Linked DNA regions of Homo sapiens: region 1 is reported to be linked to region 2. Evidence: microRNA targets listed by miRTarBase, many of them from high-throughput screens and not tested one by one. Region 2 holds a microRNA gene; the other region holds the end of a gene's coding sequence.
Evidence for each region. Region 2 holds the annotated microRNA hsa-miR-6761-5p (UCUGAGAGAGCUCGAUGGCAG, at 3,425-3,445, shown strand). A microRNA usually pairs through its seed, bases 2 to 8, with sites in the 3' UTR of a target mRNA and lowers its output. Matches are read on the target gene's strand: a 7mer-m8 pairs with bases 2 to 8, a 7mer-A1 pairs with bases 2 to 7 and ends in A, and an 8mer does both.

Region 1 (5,064 bases), not on the chromosome of region 2:
TTGCTGGACACATTTTAATACCATATCTTGGCGATTGTGAATACTGCTGCAATAAACATGAGGGTGCAGGTATCTCTCTGATATATTTTCTTTCCTCCTCAAAGCTGTTTCCTCACCTGAACAATGAAAGGGGTTTTTAGTCCTGGCTTGTGTTTCTTTGTAAATTCCCTCACAAAGTTAGATTTCTGCTTCCATGTGCCAATAATCATACCCCAAATCCTTTCCCAGTCATAATTCTCAAGAAGTATTTCCTGTTTCTCAGCACCATACCCCTCAAATTTAGTGGTGAATACACTAAGTTCATTTGAACTCACAAAGGGCCACATCCTTAATCTAGCCTTTGCCATAAGGCTGAGTCGATCTGTTCAACTGAGAAATTTTATTGGCTCCCACTCAAAGCTCTTTTTAGTCTGTCTGGGATTTAGAAGTGGTCAGGTTTTCTCACCCTTCAATCTTTCACATTTCTGAATACTCTATATTCTTTTTCATTTTTGCTCCCACATAGCCAATTATTTCTCCTGCCATACCTTGCCAAAGGCAGCCAAGAGAAGTTTCCATACCCCAACGCTGATTCTTTCCACCACTTATAAATAGGCTAACCATGAGATGCTTTCCAAGTTATCACAGGTAAGACTTTACTATCTTACCATCTTTCTAGCAGTTTTGTTTCTTGCCATGTAACTGGTAAGCTAGAACCTCATATTTTGGAATTTTGCTATTAAAGTACACAATTTCTGGTTCAAATGTATGCATTAGGGTAGGCTAACTGCTATAAACATCCTGGAATCTCTGTGGCTTAATATACTAAAATCTTATTTCTTATTCATGTCACAGTTCAATACTGGGAGTGCTCATTCAAAGACCCAGCTTCCGTCTAGTGGTTCTGCCATTTTCTCGGGTCTCAGTGTTCTCATCTGAATCCTCTGGCTTTGGTAGGCAGAGAAGGGAGTAAAAAAAGGTGTGAAGTATTGGGCAGGAGAGTTTATTTTTAGGGAACTAGATTTGGAAAGTCCACATTCCCCTGCAGCTAGCTGTAAGAAAGACAAAAATAGTTCAGCTGTGGAAATCAGGTTGGTTAAAAACTCAGCAGACTCAATCACAGCAAACTGTGTTAATTAAAAAAATCATAGACCAGGAAGATACAGGAAACCAGGATCAGGAATGGGGAAGGGAAGAGGAGGAACTGATCCAGCCCCTGTGAGGTAGCCCATAGTATAACGACCAAGGGTTGGGGACCTCTGACTTGGTTCTGGAATGCACTAATATATCCAAAGGCATCTAATTCTGGGTTGGGGTAAGACTGTAATTCAACTCCATAAAATGAGGAGGCATTTGGCTGCTGCCAGAGGTTTGGAAATGTGCTTTTATTTTCAAACTCAGGTATGTGACACTCTACAGTTCAATGCTAGCACACCTGTGTGAGGCTTAACAACATGAGGAACTGATAGCCAGTGATACACAAATCCAGCACTTCCTCTCCATTTACTCTGTCAGGCTGTATATGGGGAGCAACACATATGGCTTTGTGGCAGCCAGAAAGTGAAGGTCTTTTTAGGAGGTGACATCAACAATGACACAAACACATCACTCTGCAACTGAAGGCAGGGAACCAGACTCCTAGGGCTAAGCAGAGATGTCAGACTTCAGAGGCATTTGGGGGACTCTTCAGATCCACATCCTCACTGAAAATCCAGGGCCTGTTTCTCTCCAGTTCACTACCGCTTGGGCAGCAGCTCCCACTGCTTCAGGCTGGTCTTTGCTTTCCAGAAAAGATGGACTCATGAGCACTTTTTCAGCCCCTGTATATATGGCTATTCTTATGCTCCCTTTTGGAGATGTCCTTTTCCTCGACCTCCCTTGCTTACAAATGGAATAGGGTGGGAGAGGGCCTGTGCCTGGAAGTACTCTTGCAGGCTTTTCTGTGGGGCAGCTGGAGGTGCAGGAGCTCTCCATAACTGCCTTCCTGGCCTTTGACTCATCCAGAAACAAAGGTAGGAAACTTGTGACCAAGTGAACAATGGGGCCAGCTGAGCCTGGCCCTGCTTTAAGGGAGGCAGAGATTGAACATTCCCCACCTGGAGTTCTGCTTCCACGGCCACTCTCTAGAACTCTATTTGCATCCTGTCTTTGGCTCTGAGGGCCTCATGTAGCTAAAGCTCCTTCAGTTGTATCCAGACCCCCTGGAAGAGGCCGGGCAAATCATCCACTTCTGCCCCCAGAGTCCCTCTGCCCTGCTCTGTAACTCTTTACCTTAATGGCACATCCTTGATCAACCCTGGCTTGGGCCTCAGTCATTTTCTAGCTACTGTAAAGGATGCCCCCTTCAATAAACATGCTATTTTAAAGTGGGGCATGCTTGGGGTGGGGGGTCTCTCTGAAGGAGTGACTGCATTGAGCCCAGTCCTTGAGCTTGGCAATGGTGTTGCTAGTCTGGTCTCATTCCTGCTCTCTCACAGAGTAGACTGAAAAACAGAATAAGCTGAGGTTAAGAAAGATGTTGCTTTTTGCATTGTGATGGTGCTGGTACTGAGAAGCATGCAGCATGTCAGCTGTCCCCAGGCTGCTCTCCACCACCTTAAATGTTTGCTTGTTCTTTTGAGCAACATTTAATGACACCCTCCCAAGCGTCAGCCACCATGCTAGGCACTTACCCAAGAGATGGGTAAGACATGGTTCTTGTCTTTGAGGAAAAATGCTAGGGGAGATGGATACATAAATAGGCCATGGTATACTATAGGTAAAGGTCAATAATAATAATGTTTAAAACGTGCCAGAAAGCACAGAGGAGTGTGTGACCTATTATGTTGTGTCTGGTGAGGAGTATGGAAGGAAGGTCATCAAAGCTGGTATGGAGGGGATAATTTTTGCACTCGGTCGAGAAGAGTGACCTGAAGAAAAGAGAAGAACAGCTGGAAAAAAAACTAGTGAGTGGAGGTCCAGCACTATGAGAGAAACTGTTTAGTTGGGGAGCCAGAGATGGAGTAGCTGATGGGCCACTTGGGGGAATGAGACTGAAATGTGAGGCTTCCAGCTAGGAGACCATCAGAAGAGTCAAGGAGAGCACAGCTCTGGAGCCAGCCTACCCTGGGGTTGAGCTCCAGCCCCATGATTTACTACCGGGGTGTCCTTGTCAAGTTACTTGTTCTTTTTGTGCTTCAGTTTCCTTATTTGAAAATGGGAAGGGTAATATCCACTTCGTATTTTTTTTTCTTTTTCTTCAGGACTTAAATGAATTCATACCTATGTAATACTGAGAACAGTGCTTGGCTCATAGTAAGTCGTATATGAGTTTTAGCAATGAAAGCAAACAATATCAATAACAAAACAAAAATGCAAAACAATGACAACAAAACCCACATGGAAATCAAACCTCTACAAAACTGATGAAGGCAGTGGCTGTAAAAGTGGGGAGAGAAGTCAAAATGGAGAGGGGATGTGCTCCTTCAGTGTTGTGCTAAATAACTGGGGATGCTCTGAAACACCCCTAATTATACTGGGGTTGGAAACCCCATTTGAACTGAAGCACTGAGGTGCAAGTTTACTCTTGCATGTGGTCACACACAGAGTAAGAGACTGAAGCAGAAAGCACATCTTCTCTCCTCATTCACCTGTGAGGTGGGTTAACTGTTTTCAAAGAGAGAATAGGGAATAGATTGTGCTGTACAGCAGCTCAGAGTTGGCATTTGAAATGGAGACTAGTAAGTCTGCCATTGAAGCCATGAGTTTTCTGTGTTTTTAAAACATCTTCAATCCATGTGGACAGCTCATTGAACAGGTGCCTGGTGACTGCCCCACACTGGTGAAAATCTGTGGGTTGGCTTGGCATGCATCTTATTTATCCAGAGGTACACACCCAGAGCACACTTTTGAAGGGTTGTTGGCTCTGTGCACAGGCATGTTGTGTGTGTGTACACAACAGTATGTGTGTATGTGTGGACAGATGCGTATATAATAATTCATATCTTCCCATTTCAAGCACTGAGCTAAATTCAGCCTATACTTTTTTTTTTTTTTCTGAGAAGCCTTTCCTACTTCTGTAAAAAGAAACTCTCATTCCAAAGGAAAGAATGGGAGGCTGAAGTTATTGAAAATGAGATGGGAAATGGGAAGATAGTCACTTTGCAACTCCAAATTCCAGGTCTGATGCTTAGGGTGTTAGTCATTAAGCAAATTCTTCCTGATAACCAATTACAGAGAGGAAAAAAGAGAGTAAGTTTTTTACTGCCCCCTACCTCCTCCTCCCCCGTGCCCCGCTCCTTACCCCCAACCACCAGTGAAGGTGTTTTAGTTCTCCCCAGCCACCTGAGCTAGGGGCAGGAGACCTTCCCTTCCAATAGAGTTCCTTGGTGAAGGTGACTTCTTCATCCACTGGATGCTTTCCCAGGGCAGTTTTGTTGATCCTCCAAGAACATCAAGTCACTGTGTATGAATAGCTCCCACAGAAGTGCCGAGTGTTAAAAGAACCCTTCCTCATGACCTGATGGGATGGGCGGCAGTGTGTCCACACTTGGGCCTGACGTTATACTTGGGGAAAGGGTGGTAGTCTGAGTGTCTCAGAGCAGGGCACTGGCTAGGTGTGAGGTTTCCTACTGCTCTGTAGGCTGCTCATGCTGGAGTCCTGAGCTCCACCAGGAGTCCCTCTGGGCTGCCGAGCAAGTGGATCTTCCAAGGGGCCCATCAGCCTGCTCTGCACAAGAGTTATAGGAATTGTAGAGCCCCAGCACAACAGTCAAGACCAGCATCACTGCAGCCATCATCCAGATCACTTGCCAGTGCTGACACAGTTTGGGATACATGACTTGTAAGAAATGGACCAATTCTTCAAGTTTGCTGTCAATGAAAAAAAATATGCAGAGGCTTTAGTATACTGGGCACACATATGATACACAGACCCACAGTTCTCTCTGCGGATAGCTTCCATGCTGTCTTGAGCAATAGTTCTCAAACTTAGCTGTGCCTAGATTGGGTTGGCAGCAATTGTTCAAAATACCCCAAGCATACTAAATGAGAATATCCAAAGTTATGGTCCAGGAATCATTGGCTAAATTTTCCCAGGTGATTTTG
Region 2 (5,076 bases):
AGGTGGGAGCCCAGGAGGTCAAGGCTGCAGTGAGCAGTGATCACACCACTGCACTGCTGCCTGAGTGGCAGAGTGAGGCCCTGACTCTTTTTAAAAAAAGGTATTTAATGTAAAAAATAAGACTTTGTTGCATTTCTTTTATTCTCCATTGGTAACCACTCATGCACACACAGTTATGCTGTTGTATGTTTATTTTTTAAAAAATAGGCTGGGTGTGGTGGCTAACCCCTGTAGTCCTAACACTTGGGAGGGAGGCCAAGGTGAGTCAATTACTTGAGCCCAGGAGTTAGATACTAGCCTGGGCAACATAGCAAAACCCCATCCCTACTAAAAATATAAAAATTACCCAGGTGTGGTGGCACACACCTGTGGTCCAGCTACTCGGGAGACTGAGATGAGAAGATACCTGAGCTCAGGGAGATTGAAGTTGCAGTGAGCCGTGATTGTGCCACTGCTCTTCAGACTGGGCAATAGAGTGAGACCCTGTCGCCCTTCTCCCCTACCCTATAAAGGAGTATATAAGTGCATATTGTTCTACAAGCTTTACTTCTTTTTTTTTTTTTTTTTGAGACGAAGTCTCTGTTGCCAGAGCTGGAGTGCAATAGCGCGATCTTGGCTTACTGCAATCTCCACCTCCCTGGTTCAAGCGATTCTCCTGCCTCAGCATGTGCCACCATGCCCAGCTAATTTTTGTATTTTTAGTAGAGACGGGGTTTCACTATGTTGGCCAGGCTAGTCTTGAACTCCTGACCTCATGATCTGCCTGCCTCGTCCTCCCAAAGTGCCGAGATTACAGGCGTGAGCCACTGCCCCTGGCCCAAGCTTTCCTTCTTTTTACAGAGTATCTTGGGCCATCTTTCTGTGTCAGTTAGTTCACAGATCTATTAGTGATGACAATATACTGGATGCACCGTAATAATTTTAACCAACCCCTCTACTGATTTATACTTAGAATTGTTTCCATCTTTTGCCTTTACAAAATGCTCCCCCAGCCTGGGCTACAAGGCAAAACCCTGTCTCTACTAAAAATACAAAAATTAGCCCAGCGTAGGGGTGCATGCCTATAGTCCCAGCTACTCGGGAGGCTGAGGTGGGAGGATCATTTGAGCATGAGAGGCAGAGGTTACAGTGAGTGGAGATCGCACCACTGCACTCCAGCCTGGGTGACAGAGTGAGACCCCATCTCAAAAACAAAAATACAAAAAAAAAAAAATACTCCCTAGTGAATATCCTTGTTCATTTCTCTTTGTGCATATGTAGAATAAATTCCTAGAAGTTAAATAGCTGGGCCAAAGGATCTGAGTATATAATTTTTGAGCAATATTAATAAACCACTTGCTCTAAAGGCTGTACCAGTCTGTCATCCTTCTAACAGTATATGTAACGGTCTCTTGCTATCAGTGTATTTTCTTCCTAAACTTTTTGGTAATCTTATAGTTGAAAAGTAAAGATTGATTTGATGTCCTTTTCTCCGGTAGGCTGAGGAAGTTGGGCCTTTTTTGTGTTTTCTGCTATTGGCCCTGTGTGTTTCCTCTTCTGATCTTGCTTTCTTATGACCTTGGTCCATTTCCCAGTTGTCTTGTTGCCTGCATAATTCTAAGCCTGAAGCCTAGGAGAGGTCTGAATCCGATGTCTCCATAACTCTGGGTTCCTTCTCCCACAGGTGGATGAAACTCAGTTTAAGAAGATCCTCGGCTACATCAACACGGGGAAGCAAGAGGGGGCGAAGCTGCTGTGTGGTGGGGGCATTGCTGCTGACCGTGGTTACTTCATCCAGCCCACTGTGTTTGGAGATGTGCAGGATGGCATGACCATCGCCAAGGAGGAGGTGAGCACTTGGGGCCAGTGCTCTGGAAACATTCTTGGCGGGAGGTGAGGTAAACAGTTCAGCCTGGCATCCTGATGCTGTCACCCATCTGCTGGCTTGGGGCCAGATCTCAAGTTATACCCAGAACCAGTGCCCATAACACGCTATTCATAGTATGTATCTGATCTTGTCCCTCCTCTTCAGCTTGTACCCTCTGTCTGGGAGATCGTCTGCATTCCTCAGCATGGCCTGCAGGCCTTGGTGTCCTGGCCCTCAGAGCCAGGAGTCTAGGAATGACATTGTCTGCTCCTTCCCATGACCTTTTTTCTTTCAGTCAGATTCTTGCTCTGTTGCCCAGGCTGGAGTGCAGTGGCATAATCATGGCTCCTTATAGCCTTGAACTCTTGGGCTCAAATGATCCTCCCACCTCAGCCTTCTGAGTAGCTGGGACTACAGGTGCTCACCACCATGCCTGGCTAATTTTAAAAAAATTTTTTAGTACAGGCTGGGTGCAGTTGCTCACGCCTGTAATCCCAACACTTTGGGAGGCCGAAGTGGGTGGATCACCTGAGGTCATGAGTTCGAGACCAGCCTGGCCAACATGGCAAAACCCTGTCTGTATTAAAAATAAGAAAAAATTAGCCCTGCGTGGTGGCGCTTGCTTGAAATCCCAGCTACTCTGGAGGCTGAGGCAGGAGAATCGCTTGAACCTGGGAGGCAGAGGTTTCAGTGAGCCGAGATCGCGCCACTGCACTCCAGCCTAGGCAACAGAGCGGGACTCTGTCTCCAGTTTTAGCCACGCCTGGCTAATTTTTGTATTTTTAGTAAAGACAGGGTTTCACCATGTTGATCAGACTAGTCTCGAACTCCTGACTTCGTGATCTGCCTGCCTCGGCCTCCCAAAGTGCTGGGATTACAGGCATGAGCCACCACGCCCGGCTTATTTTTTCTCTTCTCGTTTTGAGATGGAGTCTCACTCTGTCGCCAGGCTGGAGTGCAGTGGTGCAATCTCAGCTCACTGCAACCTCTGCCTCCCGGGTTCAAGCGATTCTCCTGCCTCAGACCCTACTAGTAGCTGGGATTACAGGCGCACACCACCACGCCCAGCTAATTTTTCTTATTTTCAGTAGAGATGGGGTTTCACCATGTTGGCCAGGCTTGTCTCCAACTCCTGACCTCAGGTGATCCACCTGCCTCAGCCTCCCAAAATGCTGGGATTACAGGTGTGAGCCATCGTGCCTGGCCAAAAATTTTTTTTTTTTTTTTGAGTAAAGACAGGGTCTCTCTGTGTTTGCCAGGCTGGACTCGAACTCCTAGACTCAAGCAGTTCTCCCACCTTGGCCTCCCAAAGTGCTGGGATTACAGGCATGAGCCACAATGCCCAGCTGACTTAAATTCTTTGACACTAAATCTACGTGTCACGTGTGAATAACATACCTGGCAGGATTGTTTAGAAATGGGATACTGTATGTAAAGCCCGGGGCGCACAGGAGGAAGTTGGCCCCTGTTAGCTCCATTCCCTCTGTGTTCTGCTGAGCTTGATGGCTGTTGTCTTCCCCTGGAACTGTTAGAGCATGGCTGGGGGCTTATCCCCCAATCTGGAATCATCTGTTCTGCTCTGAGAGAGCTCGATGGCAGGTGCCTCCGTGTTGCCGAACCCTCCTACGCTGCTCTCTCACTCCAGATCTTCGGGCCAGTGATGCAGATCCTGAAGTTCAAGACCATAGAGGAGGTTGTTGGGAGAGCCAACAATTCCACGTACGGGCTGGCCGCAGCTGTCTTCACAAAGGATTTGGACAAGGCCAATTACCTGTCCCAGGCCCTCCAGGCGGGCACTGTGTGGTAAGAGCCTCCCAGCAGCCCCTCACAACCCAACAGAGATTCCTCAAAGCCAGGGCCTACTGGAATCTGGTGGTCACCATCCTGGAATTTGGGGAGCTGGGCTCAGTTTCTCCTGGGTCAGGGTGTGATGTCGATTTGAGAGGTCCTGCTACCTCACCTCCGAAGGATCAAGCTTCTCTGTGGTGCAAAGGCCCTGCACCTGAACTTGGCAGGCAGCGGAGTGGTGGGGCTCCTCCCCAGCTGCCTCAGGGCAGGAGACCAGAGCAGAGGGACCCATGATTGTGACACTGATCCTAAAAGCTTAGCCTCTGCTTCACACTTAGCCCCCACTAGGATGGCTATATTTTTATTATTTATTTATTTTTAGTTTTATTTTTTCAGACAGAAAAAAATATTCTACCCAGGCTGAAGTGCTGTGGGGTGCGATTATAGCTCACTGCAGCCTTGAACTCCTGGGCTCAAGCAATCCTCCCACCTCTGCCTCCTGAGTAGCTGGGACCACAGGTGTGTACCACCACACCTGGACAATTAAAAAACATTTTTATTTTTTGTAGAGATGAGATCTCGCCATGTTGCCCAGGCTGGGCTATATGTATATATATTTTAAAGTATTGGTAAGGATGTGGAGAAATCGGAACCCTCCTATGTTGCTGATGGGAATGGAAAATGGCACACTCATTGTGGAAAATAATTTGGGAGCTCCTCAAAAAGTTAAACATGAAGCCCCCATATGACCCAGCAATTCCACTCCTAGGTATTTATCCAAGAGAAAGAAAAACGTGCTCCCACATAAAAACGTGTATATGAATCTTCACAGCAGCATTATTTGTAACAGCCAAAAGGTGAACACAACCCAAATGTCCGTCTGTAGATGAATGGATACAGAATGTGATCTGTCCATGCAATGAAATGTGGCTCAGCCACAGAAAGGAATGAAGTAGCTGTATGAGTCTGTTCTCACACTGCTGGTAAAGACATTGCAGAGACCGGGTAATTTATAAAGGAAAGAGGTTTAATGGACTCACACAGTTCCACGTGGCTGGGGAGGCCTCACAATCATGGTGAAAGGTGAAAAGCATGTCTCACGTGGTGGCAGACAAGAGAAGAGAACTTGTGCAGGGAAACTCCCCTTTATAAAACCATCAGATCTTGTGAGACTTACTCACTGTCACAAGAATAGCATGGGAAAGACCTGGCCCCATGATTCAATTACCTCCCACAACACGTGGGAATTGTGGGAGCTACAATTCAAGATGAGATTTGGGTGGGGACAAAGCCAAGCCATATCAGTAGCCATGCATGCAATAGCATGGATTAATCTTGAACATAACATTGAGTGAAAGAACCCAGACTGTCTGGGTGCGGTGGCTCATGCCTGTAATCCCAGCACTTTGGGAAGCCGAGGTGGGTAGGTCACTTGAGGTCAA

Region 1: the mRNA of IRAG1 is a reported target of hsa-miR-6761-5p. Seed matches in the 3' UTR shown: 7mer-A1 at 4,014-4,020.

Annotation. Positions count from the first base shown.
Region 1 is chr11:10,571,746-10,576,809 of GRCh38, forward strand. It overlaps IRAG1 (inositol 1,4,5-triphosphate receptor associated 1), which reads right to left. Exons shown (of 21, transcript NM_130385.4): 21 at 1,350-4,830. The coding sequence ends at 4,587. All of the region lies in intron 1 of IRAG1-AS1 (IRAG1 antisense RNA 1), which reads left to right. Among named protein-coding and RNA genes, the nearest start is that of LYVE1, 5.6 kb to the left of the region's middle.
Region 2 is chr12:111,796,415-111,801,490 of GRCh38, forward strand. MIR6761 (microRNA 6761) reads left to right here and starts at 3,420; the gene lies at 3,420-3,491. ALDH2 (aldehyde dehydrogenase 2 family member) reads left to right here. Exons shown (of 13, transcript NM_000690.4): 10 at 1,664-1,828; 11 at 3,492-3,649.